2 linked regions of the Homo sapiens genome follow. The protein of the gene in region 2 interacts with the protein of the main gene of each other region in a biochemical or structural test. Each region holds a gene or a part of one and is shown on either strand. Other genes may lie near its edges.

Evidence for each region.
Region 1: the proteins of JUP (region 2) and PTPRK form a complex in vitro, tested with the Homo sapiens proteins (one study listed by BioGRID).

What each region holds. Positions count from the first base shown.
Region 1 is NC_000006.12:128,514,100-128,517,599, reverse strand, and holds part of PTPRK (receptor-type tyrosine-protein phosphatase kappa isoform b precursor), read left to right. Parts: intron 1-3,500. UniProt on the Homo sapiens protein: Regulation of processes involving cell contact and adhesion such as growth control, tumor invasion, and metastasis. Negative regulator of EGFR signaling pathway. Forms complexes with beta-catenin and gamma-catenin/plakoglobin.
Region 2 is NC_000017.11:41,762,712-41,766,211, reverse strand, and holds part of JUP (junction plakoglobin), read left to right. Parts: intron 1-1,144; coding exon 1,145-1,289; intron 1,290-1,395; coding exon 1,396-1,499; intron 1,500-2,890; coding exon 2,891-3,229; intron 3,230-3,500. UniProt on the Homo sapiens protein: Common junctional plaque protein. The membrane-associated plaques are architectural elements in an important strategic position to influence the arrangement and function of both the cytoskeleton and the cells within the tissue.

The DNA.
Region 1 (3,500 bases), on a different chromosome or scaffold from region 2:
TAAAGTGTAAAACTGCTGCACTGTGAGCCTCTTTAAAACCAGAACGTTCTGTAAATCCCAACTCATACATTCTTTCAGTTTCACCTCTCACTTAAAATGACACCCATGTCATATCTGAGGAAACCGAGGCATAGAAGAATAAAGAAGTATTAAAGTTTATTCACTGGGTTGTATAGCTGTGATCTCTTGATATAATGTAAGAAAGTTTTCTGTAGAAGGACTTAGATGACTGACGAAACCAGATGCAGGTAAGGTGACTTGGAAACTCAGCTTTCTCCTCTGTAAAATGGGGATAATAATACCCAACTTGACCTTTCCACATGTTTTTTATGATTAAATGAAGTAATTTATGGGAACTAGCACTGTAAATTGTAAAGCACTGTGCAGCTATCTGGGGTGTAATCATCATTAAGTGCCTTAGTCTCAGCTTTTTACTCCTTCCAAATTCTCTCTCCAGTAAGTGCAGGCTGTTCAGGATTTGTGTGTGAGTGTGTGTGTGCGCACGTGTGTGTGTGCATGTGTGTGTGTGTTTTCACTCAGCCAGTCATTCATTTAATTATTGTTTAACATAGTTATTGTTAAACATAAACATACTAGATTGGCCAGACCATAATTTTGTCAGCACAATGATCGATTATCCTTAATTTTTTTAACTTACCTCGTATAAATCCTTACTTGAGTTAGACCCATGGAAGAGTCACTATTAACATTCCTGGCATTTCTAACTACAGAAAAAAATATTTTTAGTCAGTTTCTTTAGCTGTTTGTTTAACTGTTGGTTCAGGTTTTCAACTCTGTGTTGAGAATAATATGTAGCTTTCTAGATGCAGTCTTATCAATGACCTAGAGAGGGACTATTGTCTCTCTTGTATGATAGGAGCCTGGAAATACAGCTCGAGATCCTGCTTTGTCTATAGTTCCTGACATGTCACCCTGTTGATGTGCACTTAGAATGCTGTAACTCATCTAAGCAGCACCTGAGCAGTATCTGACTCCTTGTTGTCTCTTTAGGTGAGATTAATTTCTCTTATACTTATTACCTGCTAGGAAGATACTTTGGAGCCAGCTTGCTTTAAGGTTTGCCTGTTAGTTTTTTTTGGTTTTGATTGGCTAAATATCCCTCGATCCCTCAATTCATTAAAACTCCACGTTCTAATCACTAGCAATCATATGTAGCTGGACATTTCCAGGACTGTTTTTTTTTCTCTCTCTAGTTCTCTTGCATCTGACTCTTGATTTTCCTAGGTCGTGAGATGTAGTTTTGTGTCTGGCCTACCCAGACGGAAAGAGGAGAGTCTGGCTGCTGTTTGGACATTGGCATGTGTGCTGCTGACAGCTCTTCTCTTTGTGCTCATAAAAGTGAATTTCAAAAATAAATCAACCCCTCTGCCACTCTGCCCCCTCCCACACTCCCTCCTACTCTTTTCTAGCAAAAACAGAGCCCCACATATATATACACAAGATCACAGCCCTTTTGTTTTTGCCAAATATATTTTAGTGCTGTACATGTCCTTAAGAACTGGAAATATGACTCATCCACTAACCAAAGCTAATGCCAACATTCCCACCAAATCTCATATTTCTAGCAATGATGGTTTGTTACAGGTTTTTCTGGCCTTTAAGGTAATATTTAATTCATGTGATAAGATTCCATATAGAAAAAGTGTGTTGGCTACTAATATTTTTAAAGTGCAGTATACCAGGTCTACTCAAACTGGTATTAAAGACAGTGAACATCATGCTAAATAGGGATCTGTGCTGCTCCCATTTCCCCTACTTGCTTTTCATGGAGTGCAGGAAGAGAGATGCTGGAAGATTGAGAGCAGGAAGCATCAAGAAAGTTTACAGATTGTTCTTAAAGACAAAACAAAGAACACAGGGATTCTGTGTGTGTGCACGTGTATGTGTGTGTGTGAGTGTGTGTATGTGTTTTTGATCTTTTACTTAATTTTTAGAAGAGGAAAAAAGTCCTATGGTATTTTTGACTTGTTTATTGAAATCAGCCTTTGCCTTTGCGCAAACACATTTTCTAGTTCTGTCAATGTAAAAATTTCCCTCTGTGTATTCTTCTCAGTCTTTACACTTTGATCATATGTATCTGGTCTGTGTTCCTTCTTCAAATGGTGTTTCTTTTTGCCTAAAAAGGTTGTAATTGCTTTTGAACATGACTTGTTTTTTTAATCAAAACTCATGCTGTTTGTCATAGTACTGAAAAAAAAAAGTACAAGACATCAATTCATGATAGGTCTTAAAACAGTATTTGATAACAAAGTAAGTGAATAATACATTAATCAGGCTATTTTTTATTTCAATTGAAGCAAAAAGCAAACTTGCATATCCATGAACTAATCTTTTAATGTCACAGAACATTTATTTGTTGCTGTTTCTGAAGTCTTTAAGTTCCCTTTTATAAATGGGGATAGACAATTTCAGAACCACATTGCTTGATATTTTGAGATAAGTGAGATAAGTTACATACAACTATGCCTTGGAAAACTGAAAAAATGTTATGATGTTTGATATCAGTGTGAACTCTGAATAGTTTGTAAACTTCACACTCCACATTAGTGCAAATGTGTTTTGTGAAAATACTCCTAAAGAAACGTAGTTTCACATAAAAGGTTTTTAAAGTTTCATGAAGATTCTGTTGTGGGAAGTATGTTTATTTTCCTTTTGTATTCTTGTGGGAATTCTTTTGATCTGTATTTAATATTTTAATAATGAAAACTAAGTGTATGTAATTTTAAAACTTAGTTTCGTGAGGTTTTTTTTAGATTGTTGAGGTTCTGGGAAAACACTGGGCCTGGGATCTAAGGATCACATTGATCCTCTCGTGGAACATTGCCATTTCCCCACTTAACTCTGGTTGAAATTTTTGGCATTCTCCTTCGTGTGTTGATAATCCATAAAAATTACAAGTGGCTTATTTTGTCACTTACAGTTGTTTTAGGATCAAATTAAGTTGTCCTAAATGGAATAATCCGTGTTTCCACTTGATATGATTATTGAGCTCTGATAATGAAAATGATGAACAGGGCAGTGCTGGCTGAATCCTCCAACAGGTGTCATTCTAGGAATTGTTTTAATAAGGGGAATTCAGAAACAAGGCAAAATAAAATAGTGCGTAGTGGAGTTATTGTTTGTATTTATTTTGTTGGGAAATGTGAAAGATGTAAGTATGTAGTCCTCTGTGTGAATACACACACACACACACACACACACACACACATCTTAACAATGCTAGGACTTAGTTGTAGAAACATTTAGGTTAGAAAGAAGGTAAGGGCATCTAGAGATGGTATCAAAACTCCATACTTAACATTTTTGGAAAGAGTAGTGAAAATAGATCACTACTTTATTTCATAGATGTAGAAACAAGTGGAAAATAAGCTGTATATAATCTATACTGTATACTATACTATACTGTTATACTTTTAAGGATAAAATAATAAATCTTTCTCCAGATTGGTATCTATTAATATAAACCCTTCCCAGTGCAG
Region 2 (3,500 bases):
GGCATGATCCTAGCTCACTGCATCCTCAAACTCCTGAGCTCAAGCATTCCTCCCATCTTAGTCTTCCTGATAGCTAGGACTATGAGAACATACTACTGAGCTAATTAGCACCCGGGCTAAGTTTTAAATTTTTTGTGGGGATGGTGTCTTGCTCTGTTGCCCAGGCTACCCTCAAGGAATCCTCCTGCTTCAGCCTCCGAAATGCTGGGATTAAAGTCATGGGCCACCATACCCAGCCTACAGATAGCATTTCATTAAGTGGAGACCTCAGGCTTTATTCTGAGGGAGGGTATTTAGATTGCTCCTATTCCACCTTTATAAACAATGCTGTAATGAATGTCTAGCCTTTGTCAAAGAGCGGAAAAAATTCTCATCAATTTTTAACACTTCTAGGCTTTTCCCCAAATGGCCAGATTGATTTCCAGAAGGACTGGACTAATTTCCAGTGCCATAACTGGTAATGGGTGTGCATATAGTTTTGTCATGTCCTTGTCAGCACTGGGTATTATCCTTTTTTCAAAATTTTGGCTTACATAACAGTCATGAAACTATTGGGGTGGGCTGGGTGTGGTGGTTCACGCCTGTAATCCCAGCACTTTGGGAGGCAGAGGCGGGTGAATTGCCTGAGGTCAGGAGTTTGAAACCAGCCTGGCCAACATAGTGAAACCCTGTCTCTACCAAAAACTACAGAAATTAGCCGGGCGTGATGGCACACGCCTGTAATCCCAGCTACTTGGGAGGCTGAGGCATGAGAATTGCTTGAACCCGGGAGGCGGAGGTTGTAGTGACCTGAGATCGTGCCACTGCACTCCAGCCTGGGTGACAGAGCGAGACTCTATCTCAAAAAAAAAAACAAAAAAACTTATTGGGGTGCTTGGCTGGGTGTGGTGGCTCACATCTGTAATCCCAGCACTTTGGGAGGCTGAGGTGTGAGGATCACTTGAGGCCAGGAGTTCTAGACCAGCCTGGGCAGCATAGTGAGACCCCCATCTTTATAAAAAGAAAAAAATACATTAAAAGAAAAAAACGAACTATTCGTGCTTTAGCTGAAGCTCAGTAATGACAGTTCTGTCTCCTGTCCCGCGCTTCCTTGTTCCTGTCATATTCCCCGTCCATCTCACACTCATTCCCTCTTTACCCATAGCTGATCATCCTGGCCAATGGTGGGCCCCAGGCCCTCGTGCAGATCATGCGTAACTACAGTTATGAAAAGCTGCTCTGGACCACCAGTCGTGTGCTCAAGGTGCTATCCGTGTGTCCCAGCAATAAGCCTGCCATTGTGGAGGCTGGTGAGTATGATGGCCTTGAGGGCGGCTGGGGTGGGAGCTCTGCCCAGCTGCCAGGCTCAGTCAGCCATGCTCCCCGTGGCTGATGGCACCCCTATCCCTGCCCCAGGTGGGATGCAGGCCCTGGGCAAGCACCTGACCAGCAACAGCCCCCGCCTGGTGCAGAACTGCCTGTGGACCCTGCGCAACCTCTCAGATGTGGCCACCAAGCAGGTGAGGGAGGTATCTGGGCCTGGGGTTGACCTCTTCAGCTGCCCCATCCAGCCTCCTGTCTGGGCATCTGACCTGAGGTACTGTGGGAGGACTGGGGGCTCTAAATCTCTCTTCCTTGTGACTGAGGCTGGAAATGCCTTGAAAACCCTCATCTCTTTTTTTTTTTTTTTTTTTTTTTCTGACGGAGTCTCACTCTGTCACCTAGGCTGGAGTGCAGTGGTGCAATCTCGGCTCACTGCAAGCTCCGCCTCCTGGGCTCAAGTGATTCTCCTGCCTCAGCCTCCCGAGTAGTTGGGACTACAGGCACCTGCCATCATGTCTGGCTAATTTTTGTATTTTTATTAGAGACAGGGTTTCACCATGTTGGGCAGGCTGGTCTTGAACTCCTGACCTCAGGTGATCCACCCGCCTTGGCCTCCCAAAGTGCTGGGATTACAGGCGTGAGCCACCACATCCAGCAAAAGAACAGTTTTGACCTGGGCCCTGGGCTGGAGCAATAGTGTACCAAGAGACAGGCCCCCATGACTAAAAATACAATTTAAGGAAAAATGCAGCTCCAGGGCAAGTGCCCTGTGCCTCCTTCCAACAACCATTCCCCAGGCCTCCCCTAGCAATATGCTGTTTATCAAGTGCTCACCCTGTGCTGGCCCTCTGCGTGGCATTTGTGGACAGTAGCTCATTCAACCTGGGGTTAGAGTGTGGGACCCTGTGGGTTAGATGAAGACACTGAGGCTCGGGGAGCTAATGGCCATGGTCACAGGTAGTAAATGGCAGAACTGGGATTTGAACCCAGGACTGTCCGTCCCCAAAGCTGGGGTTTTTCTGTTCCACCACAAGGCCCACGTGTCTCCCTGGGAGAAGTGAGATAGACGTCTGAGGTAGTGATTTTACTGGAAATGGATTTGGCTCAGGGCCCCAGGGTGGTGGGGCAGCAGTGAAGGCCCAGAAAGGTGACAAGCGAGTAGACATGGCTCAGCTGGGCCACTGAATCATGCGGCCCCCTCAACAATTGCCTCCTGGTCTCGAGGCCTCCCTTGGCCACCGTACTTTGGCCTGAGGAGGGTTCTGCCTGGGTCTGAGGGCCCCAGGGAAAGGCTGATGAGTTGGAGGGAAGAGATGTGGGGCTTAGAGCCAAGCCTGGGTTCAGATCCAGCCACTAGCTGTGTGTCTGTGGGCAAGTTCCCCAACCTCTCTGAGCCTCATTGCCTCACTTGCACCACAGGATAGTAACGCCCTCTCACAGGGTGTGGCGGGTCATAGGGATGAAAGTTCCCGGGCACACACAGGCAGGGCTGACCCCTTTAGGTCATCCCACTCCCCTTGGACATATTCGAGAAGGCTCCCTGGAGTTGGCTGCTCCCTGACTCCCCCGTCCCTTCCTTGCCCTCCAGGAGGGCCTGGAGAGTGTGCTGAAGATTCTGGTGAATCAGCTGAGTGTGGATGACGTCAACGTCCTCACCTGTGCCACGGGCACACTCTCCAACCTGACATGCAACAACAGCAAGAACAAGACGCTGGTGACACAGAACAGCGGTGTGGAGGCTCTCATCCATGCCATCCTGCGTGCTGGTGACAAGGACGACATCACGGAGCCTGCCGTCTGCGCTCTGCGCCACCTCACTAGCCGCCACCCTGAGGCCGAGATGGCCCAGAACTCTGTGCGTCTCAACTATGGCATCCCAGCCATCGTGAAGCTGCTCAACCAGCCCAACCAGTGGCCACTGGTCAAGGTACTGCTGTTAGGCGAGGGGAAGGAGCTCCCTGCAGCAGGCTTAGGTGCTGTATTGGTATAGGCAAAGCCGCTGTAGCAAAGAAGCCCTAAATACAGTGGCTCGAATAAGACAGAAGTTTATTTCTCTCTCGTGTAATAGTTTAGACCTCAACAATGGCTCTGCTCTAAAATTCCAGAATTGGGATTTCTATCTTGTAGCTCTACCAGCCCCTAGGGCAGAGCTCAGAGTTCAAAATGCACATGAGTACCCTGGGTGGTTTCATTAAATT